Regions from separate parts of the Homo sapiens genome. Here region 2 is linked to region 1. Evidence: fine-mapped expression QTL. A gene starts in region 1. The other region holds a variant in brackets. All regions are shown on one strand. Distances are from middle to middle. Region 1 holds the start of MMP2-AS1 (MMP2 antisense RNA 1). Region 2 overlaps MMP2-AS1 (MMP2 antisense RNA 1).

Region 1 (12,027 bases):
AAGGATCTGTTCTCTCAGACCACAGGTTCGCTAAGGCGGGGTGACTCCAGCCCCGATCCCACATTTCTAAGGCGCGCTTCCTTCTGCAGATAGGCTGCGCCATCTGGTGGCCACTTTTGGAGAAGCAGCCTCAGGGCTCAGAGCGGCCTAGATCAGCCCATTCTCTGGGCTCATGGCACCATCTAGTGGCTTTAATGCACAATCACGGTCCATTAGCTTCAGCCTCAGCATCGCCTGAGGATGAGGTTTTTTAAAAAATTCTGGGACTCCATCTTAGAGCTACATAATCAGAATTTGGGGGAATGCATCCACAGAATTTATATTTTAAACAAGATTCCCGTGCGATTCTTAACTCTGGAAAATTTTGAGAATCATGACCGTACAAATACTTCTGCTGAATTATTTGCACCTGCTCCTCACCTGTTTGGTAATAAAATCAGCATCCACTTTACGTCTCAGAAAGCTCATTTACTATTTATTGGCACTACTTATCCTCTTAAGAGGGAGACGGGACAGGCTGAGGTTCTTGTTTGCAATTTAAAGTTGAGGAAATGGGGACCCAGAGAGTAACATGTACTCACCCACGACCACACAGTGAGCCAGCAGCTATCTTCCCTCCTCGCTCTTGGCACGTGGGGGGCAGAAAGAAGGAGCATTTGTCATCAGGAGGCCTGGGTTCTCCTAGCTGCACTTTGCGAGCAAGAGCTCTGCAAAAGTGAGATGGTGTCACTGGGGTGGGACTTGTTGGCCCCTGGGTCATACGATGCTCTTGTTTGTCTGTCTGTCGATTACTGTAGCTATCTGGCTTGCCCATTCTTCATCCTGGTTGGGTCGAGGGTGGGGCTGGGCAGTGACCTGTCAATCAGAAATAAGGACATGGAAGTCTTCCAATCATAATAGCTTGCACTTGTTGACAGTGTTACAATATTGTTAGGCCCTGTTCTAAGTACTTTACATGTATTAGTTCATGTGATCCTTGCCACAGCCCCTGAGAATGCATTATTATTATGGTCATCTCTTTATGCATGAGGATACCAAGGCACAGAGAAGTTAAGAAACTCACTCAAGGTTACACAGAGAGTGAGTGTTGACCCAGGCAATCTGCTCTGGTGCCCACACTCTTAGGCTGGTGCCATCCAGTGCCCCCGGAGCAAGCAAGATTTGGCTTCTGCACCCTCAATGACATCAGTATTTTCTCTGGGCATCCTCGGCCAAAGCACCGTCCCTCTGGGGCTCTCTGTCTCTATATGTTTATTTGCCTGGTAAATGCTTATTAAGCCCTGTGCTGAGTGCTGGATATATAGCAGCAATTAACCGCAGTCATTGCTCTTGTGGCGTTTGCATTCCAGTGGGGAGACAGGCAATACAGAGCAAACAGACTCATACACAAGGTAATTTTAGATGGCTAGGAGACCTGGGAGGGATGAGGTCAAGATTATCTGATGAGGGCAACTTGAGAATGGGTCGTCAGGGAGGGCCTCTTGGAGGCCCTTGTTAGGTGTGAGTCCTGAAGGAGGAAAATGAAGCAGTCACATGCAGAACAAGGGGAAGAGTGTTCCAGGTAGAGCAGATGGCAAGTGCAAAGGCCCTGGGGTGGGAACAAGCTTTTTTGTATTTGAAGAACAGAAGAAGGCCACTGTGGCTGGAGCAGAGCGACAGGCACAATGAGCTTTTGTGGGTTTGGTTGGCGAGCATGTGTCCCCATCTCCTTGGGAGTTGTCCCTCCTCCCCACTGAGGACAGTGTTTCTGGGAAGGTGGATTGGGTTACTGTCCTGCCCTCTTCAGAAGCCAAGACAGTTCTAAGCCTTCCTCCTACTACCCTGCCAGGGTGGGGCTGTAATCTAGGCTGAGCCAATGGGACACTCATATGGTTTTTTTTTTTTTTTTTTTTTTTTGAGACAGAGTTTCACTCTTGTCACCCAGGCTGGAGTGCAATGGCATGACCTCGACTCACTGCAACCTCTGCCTCCTGGGTTGAAGCAATTAGCTTGCCTCAGCCTCCTGAGTAGCTGGGATTACAGATGCCCACCACCAGGCTTGGCAAATTTTTATATTTTTGGTAGAGACAGGGTTTCACCATGTTGGCCAGGCTGGTCTCGAACTCCTGACCTCAGGTGATCCACCTGAAAGTGCTGGGATGACAGACGTGAGCCACCGTGCCCGGCCCACTCATATGACCTCGCGTGACATAGATACAGATGGAACAATGGCAGCCCAGGCACAGCAACTGCGGGACCCTGAGGCCTGGTGTTCCCACCTTGATGTCTGCTCCAGTTGCCTGGCTCCCTTATCCTATTCTAACAAATCCCCCTTCGCTTATGTTGCCAGAGTTTACTTCTGTGGCCTACACCCAAATGACCCTACTGATGCAGTGGAGGAATGAAGGCAGATGAAGTTGGGCCCAGATGCGCTAGGCCTGGTTGGCCAAGCCAAGGAATTGGGTTGTGTTCCAAGGAAAATGAGGTCCCTGGGGATTTTTCTGGCACTGCCCTTCTGAGATGCTGTGATTCTGTGTGGGTGGCTTCCCACCTATGGGCATGACCTTAATCCACCAGCCCCTGTCCAGAAGCTCTCCCCTGCCCACCCAGGCCCAGGTCCCCACCACACTCTACCGCTAATGCACAATTGCCCTCCGCAGGCACCCAGGCAAGGTGAGCTTGGGATTACTTGTGTATTTCCCATGCACCCCCAATAAGGTCTCTCTATGGCTCAGATAAACATCTCTAAGATTTTATCCCTACCATACACTCCACCAAATGAAGAGTAAAACGAGAAGGGAGGAGAAATAGACAATCAGAACGTTCATCTTATATGTTGTGGAGCCCAGGAAGGGGACTGAGGAGGGGTCAGGGAGCCAAGGTTCAGCCAGTGCCCCAAGTGCCTCCTGCCCTTGAATTCCGAAGCATCAGGAATCAGTCACGGTAACAACAGCCAGCTGGTGACCCCAATCCCTCTGCACAGCAACAAGCCTTGGCTCTTGTTTTTCTAAGAATCCAGTCAATCCTCTTTCCTGTAAGTTGCAACCCAGTCCTCCCCCCAGGCCGGGCTGAGGACACAGCTTGTCTTCCCGATGGTGTCACCTAGAACTCTGGTTCCCCTGCTCCCTTTCTCTTCAAATAGGAAAATTGGCACAGCTTGACTTTCTTCCACTGCCCTCCCAGCCACAGCTTAGACACCTACAAACTCCCACCGCAGGCTGGAGTGCCCTGGAGCCCTAACTGTGATACCCAGGTCAGTTTCCAAATCTGTACCTTTCTGCGTCTCCTGTTCCAACTCTCAGTGAACTCAGCTGGTTCCTGCCCTTCCTCCCCAATGACCAGCCCTGAGGAATTGACAGCTAGGCCACAGCCGCCTCTTCCTCCAGCTTGACCCTAATTGGAATAAGTACCTCTATCATGGAATCCCAGAGGGACTTACGGTGGGGTTGTAGGCAGTGAGCCATGATTGCACTACTGCTCTCCAGCCTGGGCAACAGAGTGAGACCTTCCAAGAGAGAAAGAGAGAAAGAGGGAAAGAGAGAGAGAGAGAACAGAAACAGGAAAAGAAAGAAAGAAAGAAAGAAAGAAAGAAAGAAAGAAAGAAAGAAAGAAAGAAACCATTTAACATTTAAAGTTTACATTTAACAAGGGCTTACAATATGCCAGGTGTTTTACAAGTATTCATTAATTGATTCAAAAGACATTTATTGAGGGGTGTAAAATGATTATCTCTATTTTATAGATGAAGAAACTGAGGCACACAGAGGTGAAATAGCTTGCACAAATGTTGCTTAGCTGGTAAGTAGATTAGTCATGGCAAAGCTAAGCTAGGCAGCCTGCCTTCTTTTTTTTTTTTTTTTTTTCCGTGATGGAGTCTTGCTTTGTCATCCAGTCTGGAGTGCAGTGGCGTGATCTCGGCTCACTGCAACCTCCACCTCCCAGGTTCAAGCGATTCTCCTGCCTCAGTCTCCCAAGTAACTGGGATTACAGGCATGCGCATTTTTTTTTTTTTTGTATTTTTAGCAGAGACAGGGTTTTGCCATGTTGGCCAGGCTGGTCTCAAACTCCTGACCTTGTGATCCACCCACCTCAGCCTCCCAAAGTGCTGGGATTACAGGTGTGAGCCACCATGCCCAGCCCTTATAGTCTTAATAACTGAAAGACAACAGCTTCTAGAAGGATTTTGTAGCTCTCAGCATTGCCTGCCATGTCTGCACTGGGCAAGGCCTTTCCCGGGCAATTTCCTTTCCCATGACAGAAAATGGGTGGTGACCACTCTATCCTGATGTTGTGTGGTCAGCTATCTGGCTGTGGGTGCAAAAAGGATGCACTGAGACCAGGTTTTGAAGGCATTTACAGACACATGGAGCTCTTGGAAGGCTCCTCAGCTTGTCCTCTGGAGTGGTTCTCAGAGGTGGATGATGCCGCAGAAGCAGAAATGCTGCAGGTTCTCGCTTGGAACCTTCCATCCAGTCCAGGCCTGGAGGAGCAGCCATCCAGGCAGGAATTGCAGGAAAGGCTACAATCCGTAGAGAGATCTGAAAATGAGTCTATCTTAGTGAGGCAGCAGTTGGGAGCAAGAAACAGAAGCCCCCTTAGACTAACTAAGGAGAAGGGAGTCGGAGTATGATTACAAGAACCCTAGGAGGCCAGCGGCGGGGCTTGAAAATCACGGGCTCAGGCTGCACTCAGCTCTTTCTCCCTGCGGTCTCTGTTCCCCAAGCTCCCCTCTCTGCAGCCACCCTGGGCAGCTCACTCTCCCTATCCCCTGACCCCTCACAGTGGCTCCGTGTGATCTCTCGGTCCACTCAGCTGTCCTTCCAGGTCCCTGTGGAGAATCCCTGAGATAGGAACATAGAAGGTGTGGGGGCCAGAGGGGGTGCAGAAGGTGAGGCACCATTTCATCCGTAACAGCCATGACCAGAAATGCTAGTAAATGCTTTTTGAGGCTTGTTTCATCGTGAGATTTTGCTTCAGAGGCCATTTGGGCGTTTTTCAGCCCTGGCCTCTTTGGCTGCCGGAAATAAGATCCCACTCTAGCAAAGGGAGGTCCTTTTTTCTTCTTTTACAATTCCACATCTTTCCAAGGGTGATATTCAGTAAGCCCACCTCAGATGGCATCTGAGAGTGTTAGATTTTGCTCATCTGATGCTGAGGATGGTGTCTGAAACACAGTCAGTGCTGAGTAGTTGTTGTGAGCAGGAGCGGTTGGCTTCCTGCATATCCCAATGAAATCAGCCCGGGGGCTGCAGGGTGCTTTTCGGAGGGGCCATTCCCCAGGAGAGTGAGGATTGTGGGGATCCCAGTCAGTCCTGTCTCTCTGAATTCAGCCAGCTGCTTTCCTGAGCTCCCAAACAAGGCCGTTTTTTCAGCATCTATTACATTGGTGCAAAAGTAAATGTGGTTTTACTCAATGGTAAAACCACAATTACCTTTGCACCAACCTAATAGGGTTCCAAGACCTTGGGTGTCACAGGCCCAGGCAAATGAAGCTGAGGGCCAGGGGTGAGAGGAGATGGCTGGATTGGAGACTGGTGCATGAACTGGGCATAAGCACTGCAGGAGGGAAGCTGGGTGGGGCCTGGGAGAGCTGCTTTCGGGGATTCTGAGGCTGCAAAGGAGTCTGTGGTTGGAAATAACCCCCAAGAAAAGGACAGACTGGTGTCAGGGTGTGAAATGTCCTTAGACCTCTCCTCTGCCCCACCCCAGTGACCTAGAACTCAGCTAGTTTTGATGCTTGTTGAACCAGAAATGCTGTTGACTGAGTCTCTGAACCCTCTATTTTTTTGTAGGGGGAGGGAGGGAGTCACATAGAGCTGCTTTTTTTTTTTTTTTTTTTTTTTGAGACTGAGTCTCGCTGTATTGCCAGGCTGGAGTGCAGTGGTGTAATCTCGGCTCACTGCAACCTCTGCTTCCCGGGTTCAAGTGATTCTCCTGCCTCAGACTCTTGAGTATCTGGGATTGCAGGTGTGTGCCACCACACCCAGCTAATTTTTGATGTTTTAGTAGAGACAGAGGTTCACCATGTTGGCCAGACTGATCTCAAACTCCTGGCCTCAAGTGATCCATCTGCCTTGGCCTCCCAAAGTGCTGGGATTGCAGGTGTGAGCCACGGTGCCCGGCCTGAGCTGCTTTTTAAAACATGAATTAGTTGCTATATCCGTTAGCTGTTGCTGCCTAACAAACCACTCCAAAGCATAATGGTTTCATACATTTTTTTAAAATTAGTCTACAGGCTGGCTGGGTGGTTCTGCTGATCCAGGCTTAGCTGATCTAGGCTGGGCTCTCTTTCATCTGCAGAGCTGATGGGTCAGCCGAGCTGGGCGGGTCTATGCAGCCCATGGGATGGCGTGGCTCTGCTCTGTGTGGGCTCTGGTCCCCAGCAGTGCAGCCTGGGCTTGTCTTCACGGTGGAGGCGGCTTCCAAGGCAGAGGATGGAAATGTGCAAGGCCACTTGAAGCCTAGGCTCAGAACAGACACAACTTTGCTTCTGACACACTCAGTGAGTCACAGCAGATTCAACGGGTGGGGAAATAGACTCTAGCTTGCAATGGGAGAGGGTACAAAGTCACTTATAAAAAGTTTGAAGACGTGGAAGATTGGGGCTATTTTTGCCATCAGTCTACCAAGTCACTAGTATTTCTAGCCTTTCTTAGCAAATTCCCAGTATCCACAGTAAACTGAAACAAAATAGGAACCACCCTTTCAGGATGGTTACTGTTAGGATGTGCTGTTTCTGTTTTTTTTTTTTTTTTTTTTGAGATGGAGTTTCACTTTTTTTGCCTAGGCTGGAGTATAATGTCGCGATCTTGGCTCACCACAACTTCTGCCTCCCGGGTTCAAGCGATTCTCCTGCCTCAGCCCCCTGAGTAGCTGAGATTATAGGCATGTGCCACCACAACTGGCTAATTTTATATTTTTAGTAGAGGCGGGGTTTCTCCATGTTGCTCAGGCTGCTCTTGAACTCCCGACCTCAGGTGATCTACCTGCCTCGGCCTCCCAAAGTACTGGGATTACAGGCCTGAACCCAATCTCACTAGGTCTGTCTTTCATATCTCTTACCTACTTGGCCCTGTAGGCAAGTGAGTTGACCATCTCGTCCTCCAATACAACCAACTCATGCTCATGAACTGGCTCCCCATTGTCTACAGGAGAAAACTAAACTCCTTAGCTTGGCAGTAAAGGCTTTTTGCCATGGACTATTCCAGGCTTACCTCCTGCCTCTGCCTTTTGTCCCTCTCCTCAGCTCTCCCTTACACCCTTAGTCCTTGTCACACCTTTGCAAACACAAGGCCCTTTTTCTTTATGTTCTTCTGAACCTGTCTACTTTGCAACCTGTTCCTTCTGCCAGGAATACTCTTTCTGTGCCTGGAGAAACTTTCTTCTCCTTCAGGGTGTGGCTCAATGTTGTGTCTACAATGTCTCACTCTATCCTTTTGGGCTTCCCTTGATGCCATCCTTCACATCTTGACCCAGCACAATTGACTCCTCCTTCCCCAGCTCTGTCTTTGAGAGTGTTATAAACACAGCCCTCTTACTCCACCTGATGCGGCTGTAGATGTGCCAGACTGCCCTGAAGTGTGTGTTTTCACCAACACACCTGCATTCACGTCTTGCCTCCACCACTCTTGAACTCGGTTACCCTGGGCAGGTTAGTTGATGATTTCTTTGAGCCTCAGTTTCCCCATCTGTGAAATAAGTTTACAATATATCTACCTTCGAGTGTTGTTCTGAGAGGCTCAATTGAGGTAGCAGGTAGAATATACTTAGTATGGTGCCTAGAACATAGCAGACGTTCAATAAATATTCGTTGTATGAACAAATAGCCCAGGCCCAAGTCCTTTGCAGCCTCAGCACCTCCCAGCCTTCATGAGACCCTCTCTGTTTCTTTTTGGGCAATAATATTTCTGTTCTTCAATCCATGTCAACTTCTTAATCACTTTGTGGGGATGGGAGTAAGGGGCACAAAACATGCCCACAAAGTACTTGAAATTATTGCTATTCAGGAATCAAAAGGCAAAGATTAGTTGCCTGTCTCTGTCTCACAAACAAATTAATGGAGTGGCAGCTTTTGGTGCAAAATACAGTTCTTGTCGAAAGGATTATAAGTATTAAATCCAGCTAGAATATACTGTGATTGCATGTGTGTGTGTGTGTAAAGCAAAGCTGCAATAATCATACATTTACAACTAATAAATTGGGTCCTTTAATTCCTCTGCAATAAGCCTTTGAAATATAATCTGTCATTTCAGACTTACAGAACATGACTTTTCATAATTATAATTCTCCAGCACACATTACTACTTATAATTAAATTCACTTTTAGGAAATATGGAGCTTTTTTGTGGATTATCTGTTCATACGATGTCATGATGGTAAAATTAATGTATAATCTGTTGAATACATTTGGTTAGTTTTTGGATAAAAAACACATACTCTGCTATTGATCAAAAGCTGGAAAGACAGATGAGCTGAACAAAATATATACTACTTCTCAGCAACTGGCTCAAACAAAGCCAAAGCAAACCCAGGCATGTCTTTCCCATCCCTGCCTCCCAAATAGGGCATCTAGGACAATGAAAAAAAAGCATTTGAGTTATTTGAAAGGACACAAATGTTAAATTATGGCCAAATTGTCTGCTGGAGATGACACAGTGTCATAAATTTTGAACAGCAGTTGAGTAAAGGTCTCTTGCTGGATGGATGATCAGAAAACAGACCCCAAAAGGCTCCAAACCAGCAACCGTGTGCAGGAGACATATACGGATTCATGAGCTAAGACACAAAGGAAAAGATAAGCAGATAAGGAAAAATGAAAACCCTGAGAAATAGGCACAGAGAAAGTGGGCATTCATGGTCTAACAGCACCATCTTCAGCGTTTTTTTTTGTTTTTTTTTTTTTTTTTTGAGGCAGAGTCTAGTACTGTCATCCAGGCTGGAGTGCAGTGGTGCGATCTTGGCTCACTGCAACCTCTGCCTCCTGGGTTCAAGTGATTCTCCTGACTCAGCCTCCCAAGTAGCTGGATTACAGGCGGGCGCCACCATGCCTGGCTAATTTTTGGTAGAGACAGGGTTTCACAATGTTGTCCAGGCTGGTTTGAACCCCTGACCTCAGGTGATCCACCCACCTCGGCCTCCCAAAGTGCTGGGATAACAGGCGTGAGCCACCGTGCCTGGCCCATCTTAAGCTTTTCATCAAAAAAGCTACATTGCATTTTTACAACTCTGGACAAAAATGTTTTATCCAGCTCAAGGTCAAGGCTGGCCAAAGCCATGAATTGGTGTGTTCCCTACTCATGTCTCAAGAGAATTAAATGCTTCCTGAAGACTGGATTTGAAGAATGATGAGGAAATCTCTCCCCACCAGTGGAAATGTCCTTCCAGGTTGATTCTTTTTCCTAAGGCCCAGGAGGAAGACCTCTGTTTCAAGGGTAAGGTTTTCCTGAGAGGGGCAACTTGAATGAGAAGTCAAATATTTAGCATGAACCTGACAACGTGTGTAACTTTGACAGAGGTGTAAGAGAGAGGGCACCTCTGCACTTGGGACAATGAGTTTGAGCAAGAGGACTGGGTGAATTGCTGTTGATACAGGAGTGGCTTCCAGGAGCAAAAGGCAGGGAAAAGATTAGAGAAGGTCTATATGTGTATGTGTGTGTGACAGTGTGTGTCTATATGTGTGTCTTTATGTGCCTGTGTATATACACGTTTGTGTGCATGTGTTTATGTATACATGTATCTATGTGTATGTGGTCTGTACATATGTGTGTCTGAGTGTGTAAGCATGTATCTCTAGGGGTGTGTCTATGTGTCTGTCTGTGTATGTCTGTCTGTGTATGTGTGCCTGTGTCTTAGTCCATTTGGGCTGCCATAACAACATTTCATATACTGGGTTACTTAAAATAACAGAATTTATTGCTCACAGTTCTGGAGGCTGGGAAGTCCAAGATCATGGCACCAGCAGATTCAGTGTCTGGTGGGGGATCCCTTTCTGGTTAACAGACAGTGACTTCCAGCTATGTCCTTATGTAGTTGAAGAGACAAGAGGTCTCTCTCTGGCCTCTTTTATGAGGGCACTGATTCCATTCACAAGAGCTCCTACCTCATGACCCAGTCACCACCCAAAGGCCTTGCCTCCTAACACCATCACCTTGGGAGTTAAGATTTCAACATGGGAATTTTGGGGAATACTGACATTTAGACTATAGCAGTCCGTGCATGTGTGTATGTTTCCATTCTGAGTGTGTGAGTGTGTGAGTGTCCCTGTGTGAGTGTGTGTGTCTGTCTGGTATCTGAGTGTTTATGTGTGAATGTGAGTGTCTGAGTGTGAGTGTGTGTGTCTGTCTGGTATCTGAGTGTTTATGTGTAAGTGTGAGTGTCTGCATGTGACTGTGTCTGTCTGGGAACTGAGTATCTCTGTGTGAGCGTCTGTGTGACTGTATGTGCCTGTCTGGTATCTGGATGTGTGCGTGTATGTGTGTGTGTGTGCGCGCACGTGGTGTGTATGAAGACAGTGAGAGGGAGAAGAGAGGAACAGGCCTTAGGCAAGTTTCTTCTCCTTTCTGGCTCCTGAATTCTCCATCAGTGAAACGATTCTTTCCCCAGTGAGTCAGTTAATCTACCAACGTTGCCCTGCTATGTGCCATCTCTGTGAAAGGTACCAGGGATGCAGAAGTGGGAGTCAAGGGGCACTGCCCTCACAAGCTGTCTGTGGCATCAGGTGGTGGATGATTATGGCTGGCATCTTCCCAGGGACCTCACATCAACAGCAAGAAGGGCCACCACCTGTGAGGCAGGGCCTGCCTTCCCCGCGTTATTAAAAGTACGTGCCTCCCCTGTAATCCCAGCACTTTGGGGGGCCAAGGCGGGCGGATCACAAGTTCAGGAGATCAAGACCATCCTGGCTAACATGGTGAAACCTTGTCTCTACTAAAAAAATACAAAAAATTAGCCAGGCATTGTGGCGGGCCCCTGTAGTCCCAGCTACTTGGGAGGCTGAGGCAGGAGAATGGCGTGAATCCGGGAGGCAGAGCTTGCTGTGAGCCGAGATCGCACCACTGCACTCCAGCCTGGGCGACAGAGCGAGACTCTGTCTCAAAAAAAAAAAAAAAAGAAAGAAAGAAAAGTACGTGCCCCCACCATGCATAAGGACAGGGTTAGGACTGCCAGGGGACAGAGGAGGAAGTCCCTCACTTGGCAATAGCTCTCTGGCTGTAGCCCAGGCAGTCACTACTCTCTGAGGTGGTGATGGATGCCACTTTCCTAGGCTCTCCATTGTTAAAGACTCGAAATGCTGCAATCTCAGCAATTATGGAAGCATTTCTTGTGGCTATGGTCCAGGCAGGGCACAAGGAGGAAGTCATGGGCAGATTCAAGCAGGAGAAGCCTATTAAGACAAGCTCTCTAAACAGAGGTGATGTCAGCACAAAGATCAGCATTGGCCTTGGGCCTGAGATGAGATCAAGGACTGAGCAGAAATCACCACTGTGCCAACTTAAAGTCTCATAAATGTTTCTCTGGTTTGTGCTATGGAAAAGGAGAAGCCTAAAGATGGAAAGGCATTCGCTCAAGGTCACACACAACTGAGAGGCCAAGACAGGTCTAAGGACATTGACTTTTAAAATTTTTAGTTTTCTATTATTTTTAGAGACATCTCATCTGCCACCTAGGCTGGAGTGCAGTGGCGCCATCATAGCTCACTGCAGCCTTGACCTCCTGGGTTCAAGCAATCCTCCCTCCTCAGCCTCCCATGTAGGTGGGGCTACAGACATGCACCACTATACACAACTGACTTTTTTATTTTTATTTTTTTTGTTGAGACAGGGTCTTGCTATGTTGCTCAGGTTGGTCTCAAACTCCTGGCCTCAAGCAATCTTCCCACCTCAGCCTCCCAAAGTGCTGGGATTACAGGCATGAGCCTTGGGGCCCAGCCAGCATTGACTTTTAATCTCTGGCCTGTAAAAGTATGCACACAATATTATTTAAAACGTATACCTGGCTGTCTCCCTCTCCAAAGTCAAGAATAGGACCAGGATAAGGCTGGAGATGAGA
Region 2 (8,000 bases), 20 kb after region 1:
GTGTGTGTGTGGTGAGTGGATGCATTGACATGCACAGATCTCTCAGGACAGACAGGAATCAGTCAGTCCGGGCTGGATCTTAAATAGCAGCTCAGCACAATACCATGCCCATCTGAGCCAGTCTTGAAAGGAGCTTGCTCTTGAGGTTTTGGGTTTGGGGGGCTTGATTTTTTTTTTTTGTCAAATAACTGAAAATGCCAGCAGAAAGATTGTCTGGAGGGAGGCATGAGATGGGGAGCCTGAGATTTCTTAATCAAACTTTCAAGTGTTATTTTTGGTCTTCCGCTGAGCTGGGACCAAAAAAGAATCTGCATATGATATTTACATCTCAAATCTTCAGAGCCTCATTAGCTTTGATAGTTATTTATTTATTTATTTATTTGCAAAAAGGAATTTAAATCAAACAGAGAGGCACAAAAGCAAAACCTTTGAATGTAGTGCAACATTAATTAAAACAGGCAGCCGAAGGGTAGAGTGAAATACAATGGAATCCAGAAAAAAAAAAAGACAATGAAACTAATTAGACTCTGATGGGAAGATCCTTCCTCGTTTGGTGATCATCCATTGGTAATTAATAAGTCACAAATATTGATGTTTGAAGAAAAGTGCCAGAATTTTAACCCCTGTTTTTCCAGAAGTTTAAAAAAAATTTCTTTAGATTCTGATCTTCTAAACTAAATCAGTCAAATGATTGGATGTTGAATTTTACAGTCATGTGTTGGTGACGGATGGGGATGTGTTCTGAGAGGCTATTTCATCATTGTGCCAACCTCATACAGTGTACTTACACACACCTAGATGGTATAAGCTATATGGAATAGCCTTTTGCTCCTAGGCTACAAACCGGTATAGCATGTATCACACTGAATACTGTAGGTAATTGTAACACCGTGGTAAGCATTTACATATGTAAATATAGAAAAGGTCCAGTAAAATTATGGTATAAAAAGTAGAGAATGGTACACCTGTATAGGGCACTTACTGTGAATGGAGCTTGCAGCACTGGAATTTGTTCTGTGTGAGTCAGTGAGTGAGTGGTGAGTGAAGGTGAAGGCCCAGGACATTACTGTATACCACTAGAGACTTTATAAACACTGTAGACTTAGGCCATGCTAAATTTATAAAAAATAAAGTAATTGCACTACAGTATTACAATGGCTACCGTGTCACTAGGTGATATGAATTTTTCATCTCCGTTATAATCTTATGGGACCACTGTCATATATGCAGCCTGTCATTGACCGAAACACCATTACACAGCACAGGACAATATTGTGTTCTGGGGGAAACAGACTAGCCTATACCAGCAACTGGTTAGCTCTCAACACCTGTCCTCAAAATAATGTGCAGGTGGATCGAATTCAACTGTCAGCGGATAAAGATATATCTAATACAAGAGATGCTGGACTCCAGCAGTTAGCATTAACCCAGTGGTGGAACCAACTTGTATATATGAATGGATACAATCCCAGCTAGATTTTTGCCCCTGTATATTTTGAGGCTTTGTTGTATGATCCATGCTTTGTAGATCTGTGAAAAACATTTCCAGGCATCCAGTTGAAAAACCCTTGACCAACAGTATAAAAACGACTTTTAGCTTTGCCTAAGCATAAGGCAGCATCAAAGGGGTCTGGCTTCCTTTTGGGAAGTTCTTTTGAATGAAGTGATCAGTTAGTATTTATGCTTTTTGTCCTTCTGTATTATGCAACAGCACAAATGCACAACTGCCCCAGTGGGACAATCTAATGCATAGCCAGCCAGTCACACAGTTTTAAAGTTGGACGCATGTGTCTTTGGCACGTCCCAGGTCTCCTTTCAACTTCTTTCAGAATCTCTTTTTTACCACCCTCCAGCCCAGCGCTTGAGGTTCTCAGGATGACCCTGGGTCATTTCTAGCTTAAAGAGAGTGGGCTTTGAGAAATATCTTGATAAGTGTTAGTGCAATTTTTAAAGATGGCTAAAATGCTAATGGTGAAATTTCAGGCTTTGTGGCAGTTGGATGAAAGGAATGTTTTTGAGCAAAAGATCTTTCCAACGATCCCTCAAACCTACAATGCATAAAAGTGGACTTGTTTAGATAAGTCAGTAAATTATGCCTAATCTCAGTTTTCCTCCATGTAAAGAGGAAGAAATTAAACTAGAAGTAGAATGATCTTTAAGGTTTATTAAAGAGAGAGAGAGAGAGAGAGAGAATGGTTTGCCATGTGCAAAAAAAGGCAAGGCTCTTCCTTATAAGTAGCACAGGGATTCATTCATTCATTCATTCATTCTGTGTGTGTGTGTGTGTGAGAGAGAGATCTCTGGGCCAAACCCTATATCACAGTTCTTTCACATCATTTCACCTACCCCTTACAACAACCTTTGAGGTGGGTATTCCTAACAGGAGTGGTTGTCAATTTATTTAACTATCAATAAGCCACAGATACTTGCCAATCAGAAAGAACACTGAGTTAAACACTAGAACAGGGTCCTGGAGACCCCTGACTGTGCCAGGTATTTGTTGCTAGATGAGGAAAGAGGTGGGGAGGAGCCAGGGTGCCTGGCACAATGAAGGGGAGATTGGGAAGCTATTTGACAACTGGCCTGGGAAATGCTCTAATTTTTAAACTGCTGGTATGGATTTTGTACTATTGGATATGGCTGAACATCAGCCGTGACTTTCAATCTCCCCATTCTGCAAAGGACAAAGCTGAGGCCCTGGGAGGTCATGAAAGCTTCTCAAGATAAACCCATCAAAAAGCGACAGGCTTGAGTTGAAGGCTACTTTAAGTCTTTGAGACTCCAAAGTTGGTGTTCTTAACCATTATGCTGACTGTACACATGTCTCTAAGTTGACCTCAGTCTGTGCCAGGCTGGCCTGGCATTTCTCTACAAAGAACTGGAGGAAAGTGGATCGGAGGAAAGATCTGGTTTGAGTGGGAGTAGAGTTGGCCGATTTAGTAAGTAAAAATACAGGACACACAGTTAAGTTTGAATTTCAGATAAACAACAAATAATGCTTTTGTATATTTTTAGCTTATTGCACGGGATATATGTACACTGAAAATTATTCATTTTTAATCTGATGTTCAAATTTAACTGGACATCTTGCATTTTATCTGGCAACACTACGTGTGGAGGGAGGGTCACAGGGATGCTAAGACATTTCAAATACCAAGACACTTCAATCTGAAGAAACATTTTCTTTGCTAGGAACTCCCTTTTGCAAAGTCAATGATATCAGCTGTAGTAAGAACACTTCTAACCTTACCCTGAGTACCTCTTTGATTTTAAAGTCATAGAATGTCAAGGCAGAGGTCATTTAAGCCAATACCCTGCCTCACTGTCTTTCTGCCTCTTTCTGTCCTCTCTCTGCCCAAGAAGGCAGAACCCACAGCACCGGCGCTGTGGCTTGGCTTTGAAGCCAAGGAGCATAGCCCACGAGGCATGTCCTCATCTCCAAAGCACATGGAAACTATTCCTTTCCTGAAGGTCTTCATGGTTAGCCTGCTGCAAGTCTCATGGTTTTTCAGCTGCAGTTGTAATTTCTATAGCGCCTCCATCCCAGCTCAGCTGGTATTTATTAGAACACATTCTTTTTGAAAAGAAAACTGTTTCTTAATTAAAGGTTGGCAATCCATAGCCTGTTTGCAGATGAGAAAAATTAAGCAACTACTATGAACAGCGCAGTGTGTCTCCTCTGTTGGTTAGAACATTGCTGTCTAGACACGTGGAGTGTCTCCTGTGTTTTGGGCCGTCCCTGCATTTACATCTGAGTGCATTTTTTTTTTTTTTTGGTGTTGCACAACAAATACTAATGAACCATGAGACCAAATGGAAGAGATTTTGGAGTGAAACAAACTTGTCTTCTGTTTTAACCACTCCCTGTCACAGACTGCTTTTCAAACATAATACCTGGGCGGGGTGGGTGGGGGTTAATGAAAAATGTTTCGTGTCCAAAACCCAGCCTTACTGTCTATGCCAAAGAGTTGGTTTCTGGGGCCAAGTAGAAGCTGAGAGGAGCTGATCTTTGCCTCACCTCTGGACCAAGAATGAAATAAACTTATGAAGAATAAAAATATTCCTTTCATGGGGTGAAGATTCTTAACCTGGGTTCCATGAAATGGAAGACTTCTAAGAATTCCATGGAATTCTTAGCTTGAATGGGAAAAAAAAATGTATTTTTAAATTTTTGCTAACTTCTAACTGACAGTTAGCATTTCCTTCAATTCTGAATGTAGGCAACAACTAAAATTGTATCAGCACTACATGGGACTTTTGTGACTTCGTCATTAATAGATATCACAGATATTTTCATATCACATTATAGTTGCTACAGAGTATCTTGAAACAGACTCACTACTCTCTGGAAATTATAGTGATGAGTAGACCCACCTCTATATCTTATTATATCTTGGTTAATAAAAGCCCACATATTACTATATTAATTTAAATAATTATTTAGATAACTGTTATTTAATATAACTTTTCTTTGTAATGCTGTTTTGTAAATTTTATGCATGCAATGACATTATTCTGGAATGAGCCTTGAAGACTATGCTAAGTGAAGTAAGCCTGACTTGGGATAAATAGGATAATTAAAAAAGGACAAATACTATATGATTCCACTCACATGGGATATGTAGAGCAGTCAAGTTCATTCACAGGAAGTAGAGTGATGATTGCCCCAAGATGGGAAAGGAGGAAATAATGAGTGGTATTGTTAATGGGTGTAGA[C/T]TTCCAGGTTGGGAAGATACAGTTCTGTAGATGGATATGGTGGTGGCTATACAATAATGTGAATACTTAATGTCACTGACTTGTACACTTAAAAATAGTTAAAATAATACATTTTATGTCATGTATATTTTATCACTATTTAAAAATCCACAAGAACAATGCCAATATTTTCATCTCACATTTTAAAACCCACATTATTCCATAAGGAGGTCCATAGACCTCCCCTGGAGGGTCTGTAGCACAAACCTGGCTAAGGCCTCCTGATTTTAAGGGATTGCTTTTCCTGATGCCTTGTACATCTTTCCAGTATGTTTTGCCTGGAGGAATCTTTCTGTCTCTTCAGGGGTCAGCTCAAATACCACTGTCCCTTGGCTCCTGTTCTGTTCCCAGGGCTAATGTGGGGATATAGTCTTCATATTCCTCTAAGCCTATCTCTAATATCCCAGTTGGATCTTATTGCCTGCCAAAAGCCTAAGGCCTTGAGGCCTTTCCCTCTACTTAATTAAAGGGTTATTTGGCAGGTGTAAGAAAAGCACTTAGGCAATATTATTACCAGACTGAGACTTTCTCATTGATGCAATAGGGAAACTTGCTGTGTGAGTCAGTATTACTCAATGCCTTGTCTGGGCATTGATACATATCTCGTGGTCACTTTTTCACATTTTGTGCTACATTACATAATCTTATGAAATCTACAGAACCCGGAGGTTAGTGCTATCAGGCACAGCATTTTGCAGATGAAGAACTGAGACTCAGAAAGCATAAGTCGACTTGTCTGACCCCAGAGATATTTTGCATCAAACATCTTCCAGAGTGGCAGGATTCCTTGGGAGTAGCCCAAGCTTCATTTGATGAAGATCACTCATTGGAGAATCTGTCTTTGAACCTGACAGAGGAAAACAAGGTACTAAATAAGTAAGGACTTTGGATCCTCAGAGTTGGAAGGGCCCAAACTACCTAGTTTGTCCCACCTGTTTTAGATGTGGAAACTCTTGGGTCAACACCAGAAGAGTAATAACCACCACTGTGCTCTTGACGTGGATTATCTCAATGATTCTGAAAATTTCATCACTGTGGGCTCCTTTTATAATTTTGGACATATTTGAATGTTATTGATACTATGATCTACTTAATGCTGTTCTCCCCTTTAAATGGATCTGCTTTTAAAACCTAAATCCATTTACTCACACAGAAAATTTTATACTATTTCTGTGAATAGAAAACCACTAACCATAAAAATTATTCCAATAAAAAAGAAAATATGTATTAAGTTCTACCTAGACACTGTTGCCTGCAGTGGGACTCTGAGCCTGAAGTCTTCACTCCCTTTGTTAAAACACAGAGAACAAAACAACAAAAATAATTAGTACTTGTTAGGCATTAAAGACACAATAGCATCAACTGGAGACTTTCTTGACGTAATTAGAAGAATTCAAAGAGAGCTAAAAAGGACCTAATACACTTACTGTTTGAGTCAGTGCTATTTAATGCCTTGTCTGTGCATTATTTCAAATCATTTTCAATACCACCCGTGGTCTCTGCACCTCTGGAAACACCCCATTATCTTAGCTCATCCTCGCAATAATCCTATGAGGTAAGTACTAGCACTAGGACTAGTTAGTACTGCCCCATTTGTTGGATGCACAGCCAGTCAGGCACCCCTGCTCTCTCTGTCTCCAGGGTGCCTGACCACAGTGATATTCTGTTCTGTGTTGCAACTACCCATAAAAAGAGCCTTTGGCAGCATCTTGTGGGTCCCCATAAATCTTGCAGGTCCAGATGTCCATCCAGGAATAAACTCCACTGCATGGAGCCCCATGGTGAGACGGACTGCAGGCTTGCAGCCCCACACCTATGCACCGGCAACGTGCCCCCAGGAACACAGGACCAACTCCAAATTTGGGAATGAAGATAATGTTCAGGGGAACACAGGACCAACTCCAAATTTGGGAATGAAGATAATGTTCAGGTAGGAAAGGAGGAGTGCACAGGAGAGGAAGGAAGTGAAAGCAAGTGGTGGAGAGGACAAGGGGAGCCTCAGGGTCCTCATTTGGAAAATGGGGCAAGAAGACCTGCTTCACAGGATGGTTGATTGTTGGGAGGATTTGAACACATAGCAGGTGATTCACTCTCCCTCTCCCCTCCCTCCTCTCTCCTCTGGCCCATGTCTGTCCCCCTCCCCTCCTCTCCGCTCCTCTTCTTTCCTCTCCTCACCTCCCCTCTCTTCTCCTCCCCTCCCTTCCCCTCTTCCCTTCTCTCATCCCCTCTTCTCCCCTTCCCTCACCCCCATCATACAAACTCACAGACACACATATGTATTGACGTAGTTTTAAAAGTGAAAATAGGGAATTTGTAGCCAAGGTCTGCTCTGACATGACAATAAATGGGATGAGGGAGGCAAGAGAGCCCGGAGAGACAGAGTCCCCTTGAGCTTCAGGGAAAGCTTCCCAGGAGCTGGAGAAAGGGGTCCCTCAAGAGCTATCATCTGACATTGACCGGGAGGTCCCTCAAGGCCAAACAGGCTCTAATGGTAGTTCCACCATTGGAACCTCACGCCTTTGAGGTAAGCATTGCTCTCTCTTCTGCAGTTTCTGTAAAGAAATGCAAGAGCTGGCACACAAAGCAGAAATGCACATTTCAAGCACTTTCTTTCAACAGAAGCCTTGGGAAAAGAGGGGACCATGAGAAATGGAAGGAAAAGGGGAAAGGACAGGACTCAGCCAAGGTAGATGCTTCTCATTCACACATGGGCTCCAGGGTTCTGAGGCTTCACATAAGCCTAAGACTGGGAGAGGAGGTGGCCCAAGCCTGCAGAAGGACATGATTTCTGTGGCGTGTGGCTGTATATCAGTTTCCTCCACACCAGCCTCTTATCTCCTGTAGGCAGAAAGGCGAGGCTGATGGGAAGGCCAGATTATACCCCTGACTGGGCCTGCTTCTCATCGCTGTTAAACCACTTCCTTGGACTCCTTTGAGCTCGGCACATCTGGCAACCCGGTGGGCTTTTTCTTGAGGACCAGGGAAAACACAAACCCAGACTTGTGTGGGTGTGTATGATCCGTAAATACTCCCAACGTGCTGATGGAAGTTCCAACTTGTTCTGTGTCCCCAAACAAGCTCGTCCCCTCCCTGGGCCTCGGTTTCCTGAACTGCAAAATTGTGGCAGGGAGACAAGGCTAGCTGATGTCTAAGAACTCTTCTTGTCTTGAAATTAAAACATTAATAATAATAGAGGCACTGCTTTCACCTCCAGGGGTGATAACCAGGGAATGCACAGAGAAATA

Evidence for each region. PIP is the estimated chance that this variant, and not a neighbour inherited with it, causes the effect. A credible set is the group of variants that fine-mapping cannot tell apart.
Region 2: its variant is the best candidate, but not a certain one, in a credible set for the expression of MMP2-AS1 in vagina (GTEx, PIP 0.82).

Annotation. Positions count from the first base shown.
Region 1 is chr16:55,453,380-55,465,406 of GRCh38, reverse strand. MMP2-AS1 (MMP2 antisense RNA 1) reads left to right here and starts at 3,110. Exons shown (of 7, transcript NR_147198.1): 1 at 3,110-3,232.
Region 2 is chr16:55,435,158-55,443,157 of GRCh38, reverse strand. The region is part of intron 4 of MMP2-AS1 (MMP2 antisense RNA 1); the gene reads left to right. Among named protein-coding and RNA genes, the nearest start is that of MMP2-AS1, 23 kb to the left of the region's middle. The variant C/T (reference allele first, on the strand shown) is at 4,717.